Regions from separate parts of the Homo sapiens genome. Here region 2 is linked to region 1. Evidence: fine-mapped expression QTL. Tissue or cell type: aorta. Region 1 holds a variant in brackets; the other region holds the start of a gene. All regions are shown on one strand. Distances are between the middles of the regions.

Region 1 (8,110 bases):
ATGTTTTTCTTTTATTCAATTCAAAATACTTCATACTATCTTTGTGAATCTCCCTTGACTTGTGATTATTTAGAAGTATACTGATTAATGTTAGAGTATTTGGGAATTTTCTAGATACCTTTCTGCTGTTAATTTAAAATTAAATTTTATCACATATAGAATATAATTTCTATTATGTGCAGAACATAATTTGTACAGTTTCAGTCTTTTAACTTTCTTAAAACATGTTTTACAGAACAGTACAGGGTCCATCTTGGTGGGTGGACCGTCTGCAATTGAGAAGAATGTATATTCTTCTGTTGCTGAATAGAAAATTCCACAAATATCAATTAACTTACATCGATCAAACCTTCTTTACTTTTATTGATTTTTAACATTGACTTGTTCTGCCAATTACTGAGAGAGAATTGTTGAATCTCCACAAATAACTGTGTATTTTTAATGGTGTTTTCAGTACAGTCACCTTTTGCTTCATGCATTTTGAAGTTCTATTATTAGGGGCATACACAATTAGGGATACATAGATACATGCTGAAAATATATATGAATTTTATATTTTTTAACTAACCTATATGTGCCTTGATATTTGAAACATGTATCTTGTGGCCAGCATATAATTGGGTCTTGCAATTTTATCCAGCATGGAAATCTCTTCCTTTTAATTGCAGCCTTTATTCCATTTTCCTTCATCTAATTTACAGATATCATTGAGATTAAAGCTATTACTTTGTTATTTGTTGTGTATTTATACCTCTGCTATTTTTCCTCTTTCCCTCTCTTTTTGACATCTTGATAGCTTTTTATATTCCATTTTATTTTCTCTGATTCACTATAACAATCACTTTGTTTCATTTTTAGCTGTTGTTCTAGGGTTTTAGGATTTGTCCATCTTTAACTTGTCACATTGACTTCAAATAATGTTATACAACTTCACATGTAATATATTAAAAGTTACATATAATTACATCTCCTATTTGTGCTTTTGTTTTTATACATGTTATACATGTTACAAACTTCACAATACACTCTATTATTTTTGTTTTAAAGAGTCATTTTTTATAAAGATTAAAAATAAAAAAATGACTCAATGTTATTTTTAGTAACATATTCACCAATCACAACACTATTACTTTCAGTAAATCCAAGTTTCCATCTGGAATCATTGTCCTTACACCTGAAGAGTTCTATTTATTGTTGTCTGAAGTAAAAGTCTGCTAGTGACAACTTCTGCATTTGTTTGTTTTAAAAATCTTCTTTTGGTCTTTATTTTTGAAGTACATTTTTGCAGAGTATGGAACTCTAGATCGATATTTTTTTTCTTTTAACAGTTTGAAGATGTTATTTTTTAAAAAAATTCTTTAGTTTTAGGGCTACAGGTAGTTTTTGGTTACATGGATGAGTTCTTTAGGGTAAATTCTGTGATTTTAGTGCACCCATCAAACACGCAGTGTATGCTGTATCCAATATGTCGTCTTTTATCCCTCACTCTCCCCAATTCTCCCACTGAGTCCCCAACGTCCATTATATTGCTCTGTATGTTTTTGCATCCTCATAAGGTAGCTACCGATTGTAAGGAGAACATACAGTATTTGGATTTCCATTCCTGAGTTACTTCACTTAGAATAATGGCTTCCAGTTCCATCCAAGTTTCTGCCAAATACATTATTTTGTTCCTTTTTATGGCCGAATAGTATTCTATGGTATAAATATACCACATTTTTTTATCCACCCATTGGTCAATGGGCACTTAGGTTAGTTCCGTACCTTTGCAATTGCAAATTGTGTTGCTATAAACATGCATGTGCATGTGTCTTTTACATATAATGACTTCTTTTCCTTTGTGTTGATACCCAGTAATGGAATTGCTGGATGAAATGGTAGATTTACTTTTAGTCCCTTGAGGAATCTCCATACTGCTTTCCATAGTGATTGTACTAATTTACATTCCTACCAGCAGTGTGAAAATGTTCCCTATTTACCACATCCATACCAATATCTATTGTTTATTGACTCTTTAGTTATGGCCATTCTTGCAGGAGTAAGGTGGTATCTCATTATGGTTTAATTTGCATTTCCCTGATAATTAGTGAGGTTGAGCATTTTTTCATATGTTTGTTGGCTGTTTGTATATTTTCTTTTGAGAAACGTCTATTCGTGCCCTTTGCCCACTTTTTGATAGGATTGTTTTTGTTTTTTCTTGCTGATTTGTTTGAGTCCCTTGTAGATGCTAGATACTAGTCCTTTGTCAGATGTCAGATGCACAGCTTGTGAATATTTTCTCCCACTCTGTGGTTGTCTGTTTACTCTGCTGACTATCTGCTGTGCAGAAGCTTTTTAGTTTAATTAGATACTACTTATTTTTGTTTTTCTTGCATTTGCTTTTGGGGTCTTAGTCATGAAGTCTTTCCCTAAGCCAATGTCCAGAAGAGTTTTTCCAATGTTATCTTCTAGGATGTTTATGGTTTCAGGTCTCAGATTTAAGTCTTTGATGCATCTTGAGTTTATTTTTTCATAAGATGAGAGATGAGGATAGAGTTTCATTCTCCCACATGTGGCTTGCCAACTATCCCTGCACCATTTGTTGAATAGTGTGTCCTTTCCCACTTATATTTTTGTATGCTTTGTTGAAGATCAGTTGGCTGTAAGTATTTGGCTTTATTTCTGGGTTCTCTACTCTGTTCCATTGGTCTATGTGCCTACTTTTATACTAGTACCATGCTGTTTGGGTACCTATAGCCTGGTAATATAATTTAAAGTTCAGTAATGTGATGCTTCAAGGTTTGTTCTTTTTGGTTAGTATTTCTTTGGCTATATGTACTCTTTTTCTGGTCCCATATGAATTTTAAGATTGTTTTTTCTAGTTTTGTGAAGAATGATGGTAGTATTTTGATGGGAATTGCATTGAATCTGCAGATTGCTTTGGCCAGTATGGTTATTTTCACAATATTGATTCTTCCCATCCATAAGCATGGTATGTGTTTTCTTTTGTGTCATGTGTGATTTCTCTTAGCAGTGTTCCATGGTTTTCTGAAGATGTTATTTAATTATTTTCTGTCATAGGTTATCTTTTTCCTTCTCTAAATAATTTGCATTTTATATTCTGACTTGTGTAAGAGATTTTCATTCATTGCTAGTATTTAATAATTTGATTATGATGTGCTTATAGCTTTTTCTGTTTTTGCTTTTGAGAATTGGTGGGGTTGTTTTTTTGTCTGTTTGCTGTTTAGCTCAACTGAAATTCATTGAGCTTCTACAAAGTGAGTATATGTTGTATTTACCAATTTTGGAATAATTTAGGCTAGAATTTCTTTAACCTTTTTCTGGTCCCTCATTTTCTTTCCAGGACTCCAGTGATACATACATTGGACTGTTTCATATCATTACAAGTAATTGAGACACTGAGGCAGTATAAAAAGTTAAGGAGACACTGTTCATATTTTCTTGGTCTTTTCTGTCCCCATAAGAAAGTCAGTTTAGAAAAATTTGAGATCCATGTCTTCAAGTTTATCTATCTTATCTTCTACAGTGTCTTGCCTAGTGTATCTTTAACTTCATATAGTGCCTAAGTTAAATAAAAATCTAGATGTTCTATTTGGTCCTTTTATATATCTTTAATTCCTCTCATCATTATTATTTTCATGTTTTTCTTTAAACAGTCAAGCATATTTATCATAGTTGTTTACAAAGTCCTGTTTATTAATTCTATTATTGTTATCATCTTGGGATCTGTTTCTATTCACTAAATTTTCTCCCGTTTATGGGTCATGTTTTTCCATGTTCTCAATAGTAATTCTTGATTGAATGTTAGATATTGTGTATTTTACTTTTTCTATCACTCTTTAAGGAAAGTTGGATTTTAATCCGCTAATGTATGTTATTTCTGGATCAGCTTGGTTCTCTTAAGGCTTGTTTTAAGTTCTGCTAACAAGTCTAGAGTAGCTATTATTCTAAGGCTAGTTTAGACATGAGTTAATGATCCATATTTAGATATTTACTATGGCAGCACCTCACTTCCAGGTTGTTATTTATTGCAGCATAACAAATTATCCCAGAACATAGAAGCTTAAAAACGCAGAGATATTTATTATCTGACAATGTCTGTGGGAAAGGAACCTGGGCACAAATTTCCCCGGCTCTCTGTTTCTCCTAAGGCTGTAATCCAACTGTCATCAGAGCTCTAGCCATTTCAAAGATTGAAGGTGAGAGGATCCTCTTTCCAGATGACTCCAGTGGTTCATCACAAGATTTAGTTGCTTATGAGTTGTTGTTGGCTGGAGATCTCCCTCAGTGTCTTGCCACATGGTTCTCTTCATAATGCAGCTCACAATA[C/T]GGCAGCTAGATTCCATCAGAACAAGTCAGCAAGAGAGAAGGCAAGTAAAATGTAAACCAGCATTGTTTTGTTTTCTAATATAATCTCAAAAGTAACATCTCATCACATTTGCTGTATTCTATTCTCTACAAACAAGTTCTATGTCCCACTAGCACTTGATGGGAAAATATTACAAAAGTTCATGAATATTAAGAGGTCTGAATCATTGGAAGCATCTCAGAAACTGCTTACAACACTTAACAACAGTTACTAAGGAGTAACTGTCATTAGGTATCTACAGGATACCCTTGATGTTCAGATGAAGACTTGGCAGTCTGAGTGGTCAGACTTCAACATTACCCAGTGAGCTCTGGGAATTGTTTGGTACACAACTCCTACATTATTTTTTTGCCTGACCTCATGGAGTTAATCCCCACATAAATTTTGCTTAATATTTAGCAACAGCCTCAAGGAGATCCTTATATGGATTTCTGGAGCTCTGCAGAGCTCCCTTCTCTCTGACATTAAATCCTCTAAACTGTAGCCAGATCTGCCTCCCCCTGCTCTGCTCTGTTTTTCATTAGTGAGACCCTTATGTTCTGTTTTGTATTCCCATCCCACACTGTGTTCTAGAGAGTGCCTCCAGGCAGAGAGCAAGGGCAATTGTAGGCCTCTCCTCATTTGTTTCCCTTATCTCACAGGTCATAGTTCACACTGACTGTTGTCCCACTTTTGGACACAGATGTGTTATCTATTATGCTTAGTTTTCTAGATATTTATGGGCAGATGGCAAGTCTAGTCCCAATTACTGAAACACGACCACAGCAGAAACTCATCCAGGGATTCTGAGCCAGCTTTATTCTTCTTCAGCTGCTCTATATAGTATATTGGAATACCTTTTCTTAAATACAAATGATAGCCCTATATAAACAAATAATAAAATAAGGCTTAAACAAGTAATAAAATAAGGCTTAGAAGTGGAAATGAAACTAAATTAATGAAGTATAATTACCCTCCCAAAGTGATTTTTATAGCATTTCTTAATATAACTAGGTAGTGTTAAAATATACTTTTTATTTACAAAAAAACTTTTAGGAGTATGCATTCTATTTTAAAACAGAATATGTGTCCATCCCACTATAATTTATTTAAAATTCTTATTAACAAAAAAGTTTAGGGCTCCAAATTATTACTGTTGTCTATCTTTGTACACTTTAAAATCCTAACGATGTCTTCTGCAGGGGTTTGTCCCCATGTGTCACTTTATGGTAGTAGTATTTTCAAAGGTTACAAATGAAAAGTTCATCAGATTAATAATAGCTGATGCTGTACTCTGCTAAACTTCCCAATATTATCTTTTTACTGTTATACATTTATCACATGGTTATCTATAATGTTTGAGACATTTGAAGCTAATTAAGCAAAATTTCCCTTTGCATTTATTTGTTACTTGCTGTTGTGTCTAAGAGAACACTCATAGCCCTCTTTCCTCTGCTCCCTCTTGAGGCTGCAAGAAGAACACAGGCCTGCTTGTTCTGAGTTTCTGTGAAGTGAACAGACATTGCAGACACTCACCTGGTTATTCTAGTTTCTACACTGCTGATGGCACAGAGCAAATATTCCTCCTAGGTACATGTTTGATGTGTAGACAAATTCAGCCTTAATACCTATGCAGGAAGAGGATAGTGACTACAGAGAAACCCTGACAGAAGAATGAAAATTGCACATTCACTCTTTCATCCCCTTACCCTCACTCAGGCTAAGCCTAGGCAAAAAGTTCTAAAAAGTACAAAGGTAATCGGACCCACCAAGCTGTACTCATGAAGGCCTCACAATATATATTTCACATAGTTTTACTGGAAAGATCTGATATTAGGTACTTATAGTAATTTTAACATTGTTTTGTGTTCCTTTTAAATAATGGGTAAAGGAAAGGAAGATAAGTACTAGGAATAAAATTATACTGTACGTGCTTCTCAAATGATATTTGTATCGGACAAATGGTATCTGTGCTGGACATTGTCAGTAGCCCAATATAACCACCTTTTTTGTTGTTGTTCACATGGCTCCTTCTCTCTGCTGCCTCTGTGTTTTCTCACCCATATTATATGCAGGTGGGAGTTTTCTAAAATGTAGCTTTTTGGCGAGAAAGCTAATTTTCAGTTTGGATCTAAGCTGAAAATAGTTCCCCAATTGCCCTGAAGTTATCACTGTCAGGTTATTTCTAATGTAGTATTTTTCAGCATGCTCCTGGGCTAGCACTCCTGAAGGCTTAACTGCATAGTCTGTTTTTACTCATTGTCTAGAAGGCTAATGGAGTCTGTTGGTATAATCTTCAAGAAAAGTCAGAGTATCCAATTAGTAAAGGTGAAAAGCTTAGCAAAGTTTTCTCACTGATTAAAAATAAGTACTATGTTCGGAAACTTGTTTTTGTTAATAAATTATTATTCAGTTATTAATAAAGATAATACCTCTAGTAAATTAGTTGAGTTCAACCAGTAAAGCTATAATGCTAAATAGAACCTGTGCATCTGTGTTCTCATTGTGACTTGCAAATGGAAATGTTTGCATATTTTACATATTTCAACCTTTTAGTATTCCAAAATGGAATATTAAAAAAATCTGCTGCACAGAATTGGGCAACTGTGTTTGACAGTGAGTAGCTAATCCTGCCTACTCTGAGAGTTATTGAATTCTCTGCTCAATGCGGTGGGAGCACACAGCTGCTTCTGTTGTTTCTCTTTCCACAGCACAGCAATGAATTTAAACATGACAGTGGCATTTGAATATTAAAGCATATCCATTCCTCTCCTGACTAAAATTGAAGCACTAGCAAATATGTAATGCCGCCTGACTTAATCAATTTTAATTTAATTAACATATCATTATTCAAACTGGAAATTATTTGTTTTCAAAGATAGAGTCGAATCATCCTTTATAAATCATTTTTAAATAAAATTTGGACTAACAATTTCTAGTTCTACATAGAAACCTGGGATAGTAGAACTTAAATAAGCTTTTTGGTTTAGATAATTTGAAAAACAAACATCAACAAAATATTGTTGCCCAATGAATACTGCTAAATTTCCAAATTTATCTGGAAGTTTTAAGAATATATCAATAGCCCAAATGAAAAATAAAATTACCTTTGGAAATATCATAATGGAAATCTAAAGAGGCTAATTTCCCCATGAAGAATTTCTTACTCATCTTGTTATTTCAGTCAGAATGTTAGCAAGAAAAAGATAGAATAAAAGTTTATAAAAATTCATTTTTGCATCAGTTTGGTAAATAATGAAAAAATAATATTTATTTTTCTCAAAGTAAGTATTAGTAGGTGGCATTAAAATATATTATAAACTGTTTCTTTTTAATAGAATAGGAGATCTCTATATTGTGCTGGTATAGTGACACTCATATAATAATTTAATCTGCTTCCAAATGTATTCAGATATTTGCTGGTAGTTCTCTATGCAACATAATGGGCAATTTTAATGATTTGTTTTAACCTGAGTTAACCAGTGTTTTTGTTTGGGGCTCTACTATAAGAATCCTTGTGTTCAAAATATGAAGAAGCCATCAAAAAGTAATGCCTAACTAATTTATGCTATTGTGAGGCAGTGATTATTCTAGCTCATACATTCTAGAATAAACATCTACAAATGATCCTGGACTGCCTTGTTCCTATCACCCCCTATTTATAGTTTCCATGTTGCAGAACTTCGTGATTCGATATACTTGGGCTTTTTCAATATATGAATCTAGGCTTTCTCAGCTATTTCCCACATTCATGAATAATTA
Region 2 (8,091 bases), 580 kb before region 1:
TACAGTCCTCATGTTTCCTTCTTTGTTTCTTTTGCTCTGTATCAGCCAATAGAATCTTACGTTTGAAACATGGGTTTCTTCTGCGAGAACTGCTATCCTTTGCCATCTTCTGCTGAAAGTAGGAGGACACTCATTTTTTACAAATTCTGCATTGCATATTAGTCTTTTAGATGTCCTACATTTTTACAGTCCCAGGAAGGCAGGGAGTGAACTCCACTTTGGTCAAACTACTTCAGTAGGAACTGCAGCACTGACATTTATAACTTAATTTTGATAATAAAGTCAGCTAAAAGTTTGCTCTGCCAGTGATTTAAAAACTGTTAACCAACCACCTAACTAAACTAACAAATGATACGATGGATCACATTTTTTATTTCTTTTATTTTTTATTGTAACTTACAATTCTTGCAGCGGAAGCAATGAAGTTTTACATAATTGCCAAAATTGAACAGCAGAGGGCAGAAAATAGCAAACTCTGTTTCTTGTAGCACACTATTCTAGTCAACTGTAGATCTAGTAGTTTTGAAGTTTTCAAAATTGATTGGTGATCAATTTGAAATACATATTCTTGAAATAGGAAGTTGCTACATGAAAAAATAGAGCCGTGTACATTCACAAAATAAATTCCAGTATTTTTCCATGTATTTGTATAAAGAACCATTTACTGTAGTCAATTTAAATTTATTACCCTTATATTGACAGGATTCTGTGCTTGAAACATACATGCTATTAAAACATTATAAGAAATTTGAAAAAGTCTCATGAGTGATAATATTAATAAAATTATGCTGATATAGGAAATAAGTTTCCAAATATGTGAAAGGTCTATACATAACTACCTTGTGAACATAGATACATAGAATAGCAGTTGAATTACAAGTAATGCTTGCTAAAATTTTTATTTCCACCTTATATATAAATTGTAATTGGCCACTAGACAGTAATATTTTTCTTGAGCTCTTACATATTAGTTACTATACTCTATGATTCAGCAAATTCTTATTTTTACAGCATTTGTTTTTTATAGAATGTAACTCAGTCAATTTTGAGTTCATATCTGCCCTTGACTTTGAAATAGGTTAAGATGAAAATAGTTTGAAAACATTCTTATTTTTTAAAATTCAATTCACCTGAACTCACATTTTAAACATCAAATTTTTTTCATATTGAAGCTTCCTCTCTCTCTGTCCTCGCTCTCTTTAATTCTAAGTTACTTTCTATGAAATTAAAGTTTTCCTGTGGAAACAAGTGAATCGAGAAAAAAATAACTACAGAGGTATTTTAAATTTTGCTCTGTTCTTAGTGCTTTTACATTAAAAATTTTAAATAGGTAATAATTTCCAATCATTTTGTATACCTTACATCACAAATAATGATTAAATATGTATGATTTATTTATTCTTTATGTTGCAATTTTGAATATATGTAAGTTATATCTCATTTTTTATTTTTTATCGATTTATTGTAATTTTAATTAATTTTATATATTATTTTTATTATTCAATTTTTTAAAGGTTAAATACATTTTTATTTAGAAGACCTGCTTTATATACAGTGTGGAGTACTTATAACATACTAATAAAATTCTAAGGCATAAAATTAAGAGATATTTTAGTCTATAGTTTATAAGCTTAATAATAGATTACAGCTATTCTCACTTCATGGTTTAGGACTACATCAAAAAGAGGGAAAGGTTATAATTTGAAATGACAGCAATATAGGATCCAAGAGCCATAGAAGCCACTTTGCTCATCATCATTTTTAAAATGGGGAAATTGAGGCCAATGTGATTAAGAAGCAAGCATAAGATAATCCAGTCAGCAATGAAGCTGCAAGCACAAGAAGGCAGCCTGATAGACTCATGGCATTTTGGAATACTAGCAGTTCTCTTTTTAGTACTGTAAGCTCCAATCTCCCTCTTCCTGGAAACAGTTCCTTGTTCTCAATCTTTCTTTATTTGTTTAAACCAGTAAAGACATGCAACTTGGTGGGGCTTTTCTGAGTCCGCAGAGGGAATTGTCAGAGCAGGTTTCCAGGAATGAGCTTGGAAAAAGCACCATGAAGAACATAAATTTCACACGGGAAGTCCAGTCATCCATCTCGCCATCAATTCTCTCCCTTCAAACTTTTAATATCTAACCTCATCTTTCTTTCCCTGTGGCCCGCGTGTTCAGTAGAGCGTGGTGGCTTACTTTCTTTAGGCAGTGATTTTTCGAAACCCCCGGCCAAAACGCGATGGGGAAACAGATTTCTAAGTAAGTCTCTGGGAAAGAATCTGCATCTCTGTGGCATTCCTACACTAGCTTCATCTTCTAATCACTTTCCTCTAATAGCCTTTCCTTAAACCAGAGTCTCTTGCTTTCAATCTGCATAAAGCAAGGGCTTCTAGGAAACCAAGTCTACATGACTCTACAAGGGAGGGATTGCAGTGAAAGCTGCGAGAAAGACCCGTGCGCTCTGTAACTAGGCGAGTCAGCATCACAGCCCAATGGAATATACTCTAAAGATGGGATTTTCATGCAAAATATTTAAAAGATTCCATCTTGATCTCTTGTGCGGCTTAAGCATTTAAAGATATAACTTGGGGTTCTCCCTGGATCCTGGCTACATCCCATGAAGCCCAAGTGCACAATTTTGGAATATTTCCTCCACGGTGCTTTGCTTGCTTGTTTGCTTTCGGCTGGGTCAGGTGAGGAGGATGACAGGGCTTCTGTATTGCTAAATGGGTTTTCACAGGAGATGGAAGATAAAAATCAAAATTATTTGTAACGTAAGACAGCAGGGCCTGGTGAGAGGACGCTTCGCCGCCAACAATTAGCAATTCGGCTTCTACACAGCAGCCGGAGATCAGCTTTGCTGCATTTGGTCCAGGTTGGAGCATCTCCGCAGCAGCTGCAACAGCCGCACGAAGGTAGCTCCGGGCGGGGAGCGAGGCGCTGTCCTCGGTGCTGAAAGGCCGAGGCGCGCGGTGGGCGCGACAGCCCCGGAGACCCGAGGTCTCGCGGAGGGACAGCGGCTACGGGCCCCGAGCTGTGCTTTCTCAGCGCCGCGCACGCGACGCGTCCACGGTGGTGCGGGGTGCCGGGCGCCGTGCGGGGGAGGGGGCGCGCGCTCCCGCCTCCTGCCGCGAGTCGCGCACGCGCGCCCGGGACTGCCTGCCCCTCTCTGTGACTTGCCTGTGTGTGTGCGTGTGTGTATGTGTGTGTGTGTGTGTGTGTGCGCGCGCGCGTGAGTGAGAGAGGAGAGAGGGAGAAGAGAGCGCGAGAGAGGGTGAGTGTGTGTGAGTGCATGGGAGGGTGCTGAATATTCCGAGACACTGGGACCACAGCGGCAGCTCCGCTGAAAACTGCATTCAGCCAGTCCTCCGGACTTCTGGAGCGGGGACAGGGCGCAGGGCATCAGCAGCCACCAGCAGGACCTGGGAAATAGGGATTCTTCTGCCTCCACTTCAGGTTTTAGCAGCTTGGTGCTAAATTGCTGTCTCAAAATGCAGAGGATCTAATTTGCAGAGGAAAACAGCCAAAGAAGGAAGAGGAGGAAAAGGAAAAAAAAAGGGGTATATTGTGGATGCTCTACTTTTCTTGGAAATGCAAAAGATTATGCATATTTCTGTCCTCCTTTCTCCTGTTTTATGGGGACTGATTTTTGGTGTCTCTTCTAACAGCATACAGATAGGTAGGTACCCTTTGTGCTATGCTTTTGAATTGTGCATAATTTGGTGGTAATCTTTGTTCACAGTGTACAAATTAATTCATGTCATGTAGACTTATGTCATACCTTGACTGCATTCCAGATTTAAACTACCTAGAATATACATGTTTTTCTTAGGATGAAGCAAAAGGAAAAGACTATGCCTTTGATACAATAGAAGAAAAGGTCCTCTCATTTCGGATCCCCAAATTTTATTAATTCTGCCTTAGCGACATTTTCCAGTTTGCTCAGATTTTCTTGGGGTCTGAATGCAAAGCTTGTGATTACATGGAAAGGTGAAGGTTTCTGGCCGCCTACCTCGCCTTCAGACTCTCATCTGGGTCTTGACCCCTTGGCTAGCTTTTGGATATTCCACCCCCGCTGTCCGAGTCCGTAGGTGTGTTTATTCGGCCTATTCGCGTGAATAAGAGACTCTTGGATTTTTGGGCGCTAGCGCGCGCCCCTCCTTTCCCTCCCGGGGCACTGACACTGTTCTCTTGCTTGCTGTTTGTTCTTTGCAGGGGGGCTATTTCCTAGGGGCGCCGATCAAGAATACAGTGCATTTCGAGTAGGGATGGTTCAGTTTTCCACTTCGGAGTTCAGACTGACACCCCACATCGACAATTTGGAGGTGGCAAACAGCTTCGCAGTCACTAATGCTTGTAAGTAATGAATATTCATGCCTTTCGGGTGCTGCACGCGGAAGGCCAGCGAGTGTGAGTGTGTGTGTGCGTTTCTGGGGTGGTGTGTGTGCGTTTCTGTGTGTCAGTGTGTGGGTGTGAGTGACTGCACACACGCGTGCGTGTGACCGTGTAGAGAGAAGGTGGCTGTAATCTCAGGGACCCCCGCTGGCTGGAGAGGGCTGAAGAGAGAGGGAAAGGACGTCAAGAGTGTGCGCATTAGGGAGCCGGGGTGAGGGTTGGAGCCAGGGAGGGCGGCTTTCTTGGGTTCAAGGGGTTTTCGCTCATCTTGAGTGCTTCAGGAGAAGCCCTCCCACCTCGCTCCCCATCGAGCGCCTGTTGGCACCCTGCCCACAGAGAACACGTTGTTCCCCAGGGCGCGCAGTCGGGCTGTTGGACAAATCCCACGAGGGACTGCCGGAGCCCAGTGGCCTCCTGCCCCAGCAGCTGCCGCTCTCGCCCGCTGCCCCCAGTTTAGATCCGCAGCACCGGCTGGGCTCACCCTGCGGCCCTCGCGAGCTCCATGTTCTCCTCTTTGGGACAAGTTGTTGAAATGGTTCCGGAGTTGGGATCGGGGCTGTTACATAACGCCCACCCGAGGGGCGAGGAGCGGGGCTGACGCAGGCTCAGGCCGGCCGGGTGGCGTGGGGGTGGGGCGGGGAGGCGGTGGAAAGGGGGAGCGCTGTCAATTTCTCCTGCTCAGTTGCGCTTCCGCTTAAGTTGGAGGGGGCGAGGCCGCCAGGGGCGCCGCGGTCAGCTTGCCAGCCCGGCGCGCTTTGTTCTCAGGTAGCTGGGCTCCAGCAGAGGCAGCCGGGGAAAAGGACTGGGAAGCCGTGGGATCTGGCCGAGTTTGAAAATCTGGAGAAGTCGCTGATCAGCCATTTTAGTCTTTGCAATGCTCCATATTAACCCTCTCACTCCGCGCAGTGCTCCGGGACTCGCTGGGAAGCTCTGTGATGGGTTCAGATAAAGTACTAGAAACCAAACAATTAGGGATCTAAAAGGATTGGTGTGGAGGCCAGAGGGCTCCGGTCCCCGCGCTCGCTCCCCCGCGCAGGCGTGGGCAGGCAGTCGCGGCCACTGTGCCTTCCTGCCCTCTTCCCAGCAGCTGCCATCATTTCCTGCCGACTGCCCTGCGGTGATTCTTTCCTGCCCTAATATTCGCAGTCGTTATTTCATAGATAACAATTTGGGGGAGATCTGCGGATGGCTCACTTCCCACTTTGGCTACAGAGCTTGGGGAAAATTACCACAGGAAAAGCCCAACTGCAGTTTTCCCACGTCACACAAACAACTGGTTGCCATCCCTCCTCCCCATTTTAAGCTTTAGTCATATATTCCGTGATTTAGCTTGATTATCATATTGGGCCCATCATCAACTCTTGCAACTACTGTCACCCGGACGAATGAAGAAACAATTTTCTTAGACTGATAGAATAGGGGCATTGTGTGGTAATTTAGGATTTAATTGTTTATAATGGATCTATTTAAGAAGGTTTCACTGCTATATATTTTCTTCAAATGTTGGTGCCAAGTAAGAAAAGAAAGAAGGGCGGGTGTGGGGGTACAGAACGAAAGAGAGAAGAGGAGAATTAAAGTGGATTTGCAGCTTTGAAAAACGTCCGTAATAGAATATCTCAGAAAATTTTAGTACATGACATACAAAGAAATCAACTTAATTAAAATTTGAAGACTTCTATATTTGACCTATTTACCTAACAGATTTAGACTATTCATTTGATATCAGTAAGTTCCAATTTTTCCTGAATTACAAGTTTGTCATGCAACTGTTCTGAGTATCTAACTGTGTGTAATTGTATACTTATGTGAAAATGCTTTGAAAAGTAATGACTCCTAAGGAACGGCTGTGGGTATAGGAAGGACATAGGTTTTGAATGTGAAGTGAAAGTATTGACAGCTGTACTTTTTGAAAACAGTCAATGATTGCCAAGTTCACTCATTGGTGAAAATAATGAGAAGAACTTTCTGCAAAAATAACATATGTCCATTGACAAAATGAATATTCCTTGATTTCAACAAATGCTAAACTACTGTATTGGGGCTTTATAAAGATAAAAGACTGTGATTAGGTTATTAGGTTTAGATACTCATTCTCAATATTTTTGAATTTTTAAATAGAAATTTTTCTGAAATAAAATATATAGCCAGAATATGTGTATATATTAAACACATATGTAAATTCATATATTTGCAGGGTGAACACATTCATGTAATCAACATGTGGACTTCTTTTAAAAAATTACCACACAATTTAATTTGTCCATAGTTCTGAGAAGCTGGAATAATCAAGTCTTCATTTGCACAGTTTTTTCCCCTCCTCAGGAAGTGAAGCTAAAATAAATATGTTCACATTTCCAGAGACTAAAATTACCCCTGCATGGATTATTATAGTAGGATAGTAAAACAAATTATTTTCAGGAACTGAACACATTTTAAAGATGACAACATGATAATTCAAAAGCATGACATTTGCAACTCCCATGTTATAAGTAATCTTACTGTTTGCTAAAAAGAACTAGGGGGGTACTGTGACAGAAGAGAGGCTCATTGGATAGAAATTTCTGGGGCTGACATTAACTCATTGACTGGGCAAATCGCTTAACATGTTTGTGACTCCGTTTTTTTATTCTCTGAGACATTTCAAAATTTAGAGATTGCAAAATGAAATAGAGAATTTGTATCCTTTTTTGTTTGTTTGTTTTTGTGCTATGGACAATAGAAGATGTAAAATTAGTTTAACTCTTTTGAGACAGAATGAGAGAGAGGGAAAGGGAAAGATGCTTATGTAAACTACAATCACAAAGTCAAGAAATGGATGAAAATCTCTAGTGTTAAATTTGTCAGCATGGGTCTTGATCGTTTAAATCCTGCTTAAGATTTTTCTCCAATGCCTATCCTTTGTTTTCTTGCCTTTTTATTCAGGGAAGTCTGTGATTCTTTCCTTTATAAAGTGGAAGCAACAGCATTAAATACATTGACAGCTAAGATCTAAACATCTTTTTTCCCATTTCCTCTAGAAATCTCAGGAATTTTGCTATCTAATGACATTATTAGATGATAGGTATCATCTTGCAATGCTCTTGAAATAGCTTGCTCTTCCAATCATAAAAATCCCACAGAGCTAAATTTACGTATTAAAAAGTGGATTTTTATACCTTAGTAATACAACTTCAAAAGGGAAAATTTATTAGTTTACTAATTTAATTTTATTCCTGAGATGGAGGAAATTATTTGGAAATGTTGAAGTGGACGTTGATATGAGGATCCAGGGAGATCCACTGAATGGGTTAAGGTTATACAAAGAAAATGAAGTCATTCTATTCTGAACTGGGTAAAATGATTGTGTGCATCTTACTGAGCTCCCACATCCTTCCCTTTCACAATCACAGTGGGATAATGAAAGTACCTATTTTGTTCCATTTGTTTCCATGGGTACCTGAGGCAGTAAGACAGATTTTCAGTTTCTTTCATTTTTTCTCCATCATTCCCTTTTTCTTTTCCTCTCTCCCCTCACTCATTTTTTCCTTTCCTCCCTCCCTGTCTTCTTAGCTGAAAAGAGAACTAAGATTTTTTTTCCTGAAGGTTGTTCAAACGTAAGCCTTCATTATTAAAAATACAAAGCATAAAAGCAGAAAAAAATCTGAGATTAGTATCTGATGTGTAGAACAGTTGAAACCAGGGATGGGTCCTAGGAATCCAA

The links. PIP is the estimated chance that this variant, and not a neighbour inherited with it, causes the effect.
Region 2: GRIA2 starts here. The variant in region 1 is fine-mapped to the expression of GRIA2 in aorta (GTEx, PIP 0.97).

Annotation. Positions count from the first base shown.
Region 1 is chr4:157,799,367-157,807,476 of GRCh38, forward strand. LOC105377509 (a long non-coding RNA gene) reads right to left here. Exons shown (of 6, transcript XR_007058347.1): 5 at 5,885-5,976; 6 at 4,064-4,335. Among named protein-coding and RNA genes, the nearest start is that of LINC02433, 230 kb to the left of the region's middle. RefSeq lists a silencer at 5,731-6,025. The variant C/T (reference allele first, on the strand shown) is at 4,330.
Region 2 is chr4:157,217,456-157,225,546 of GRCh38, forward strand. It overlaps GRIA2 (glutamate ionotropic receptor AMPA type subunit 2), which reads left to right and starts at 3,273. Exons shown (of 16, transcript NM_001083619.3): 1 at 3,273-3,675; 2 at 4,212-4,352. The coding sequence starts at 3,588.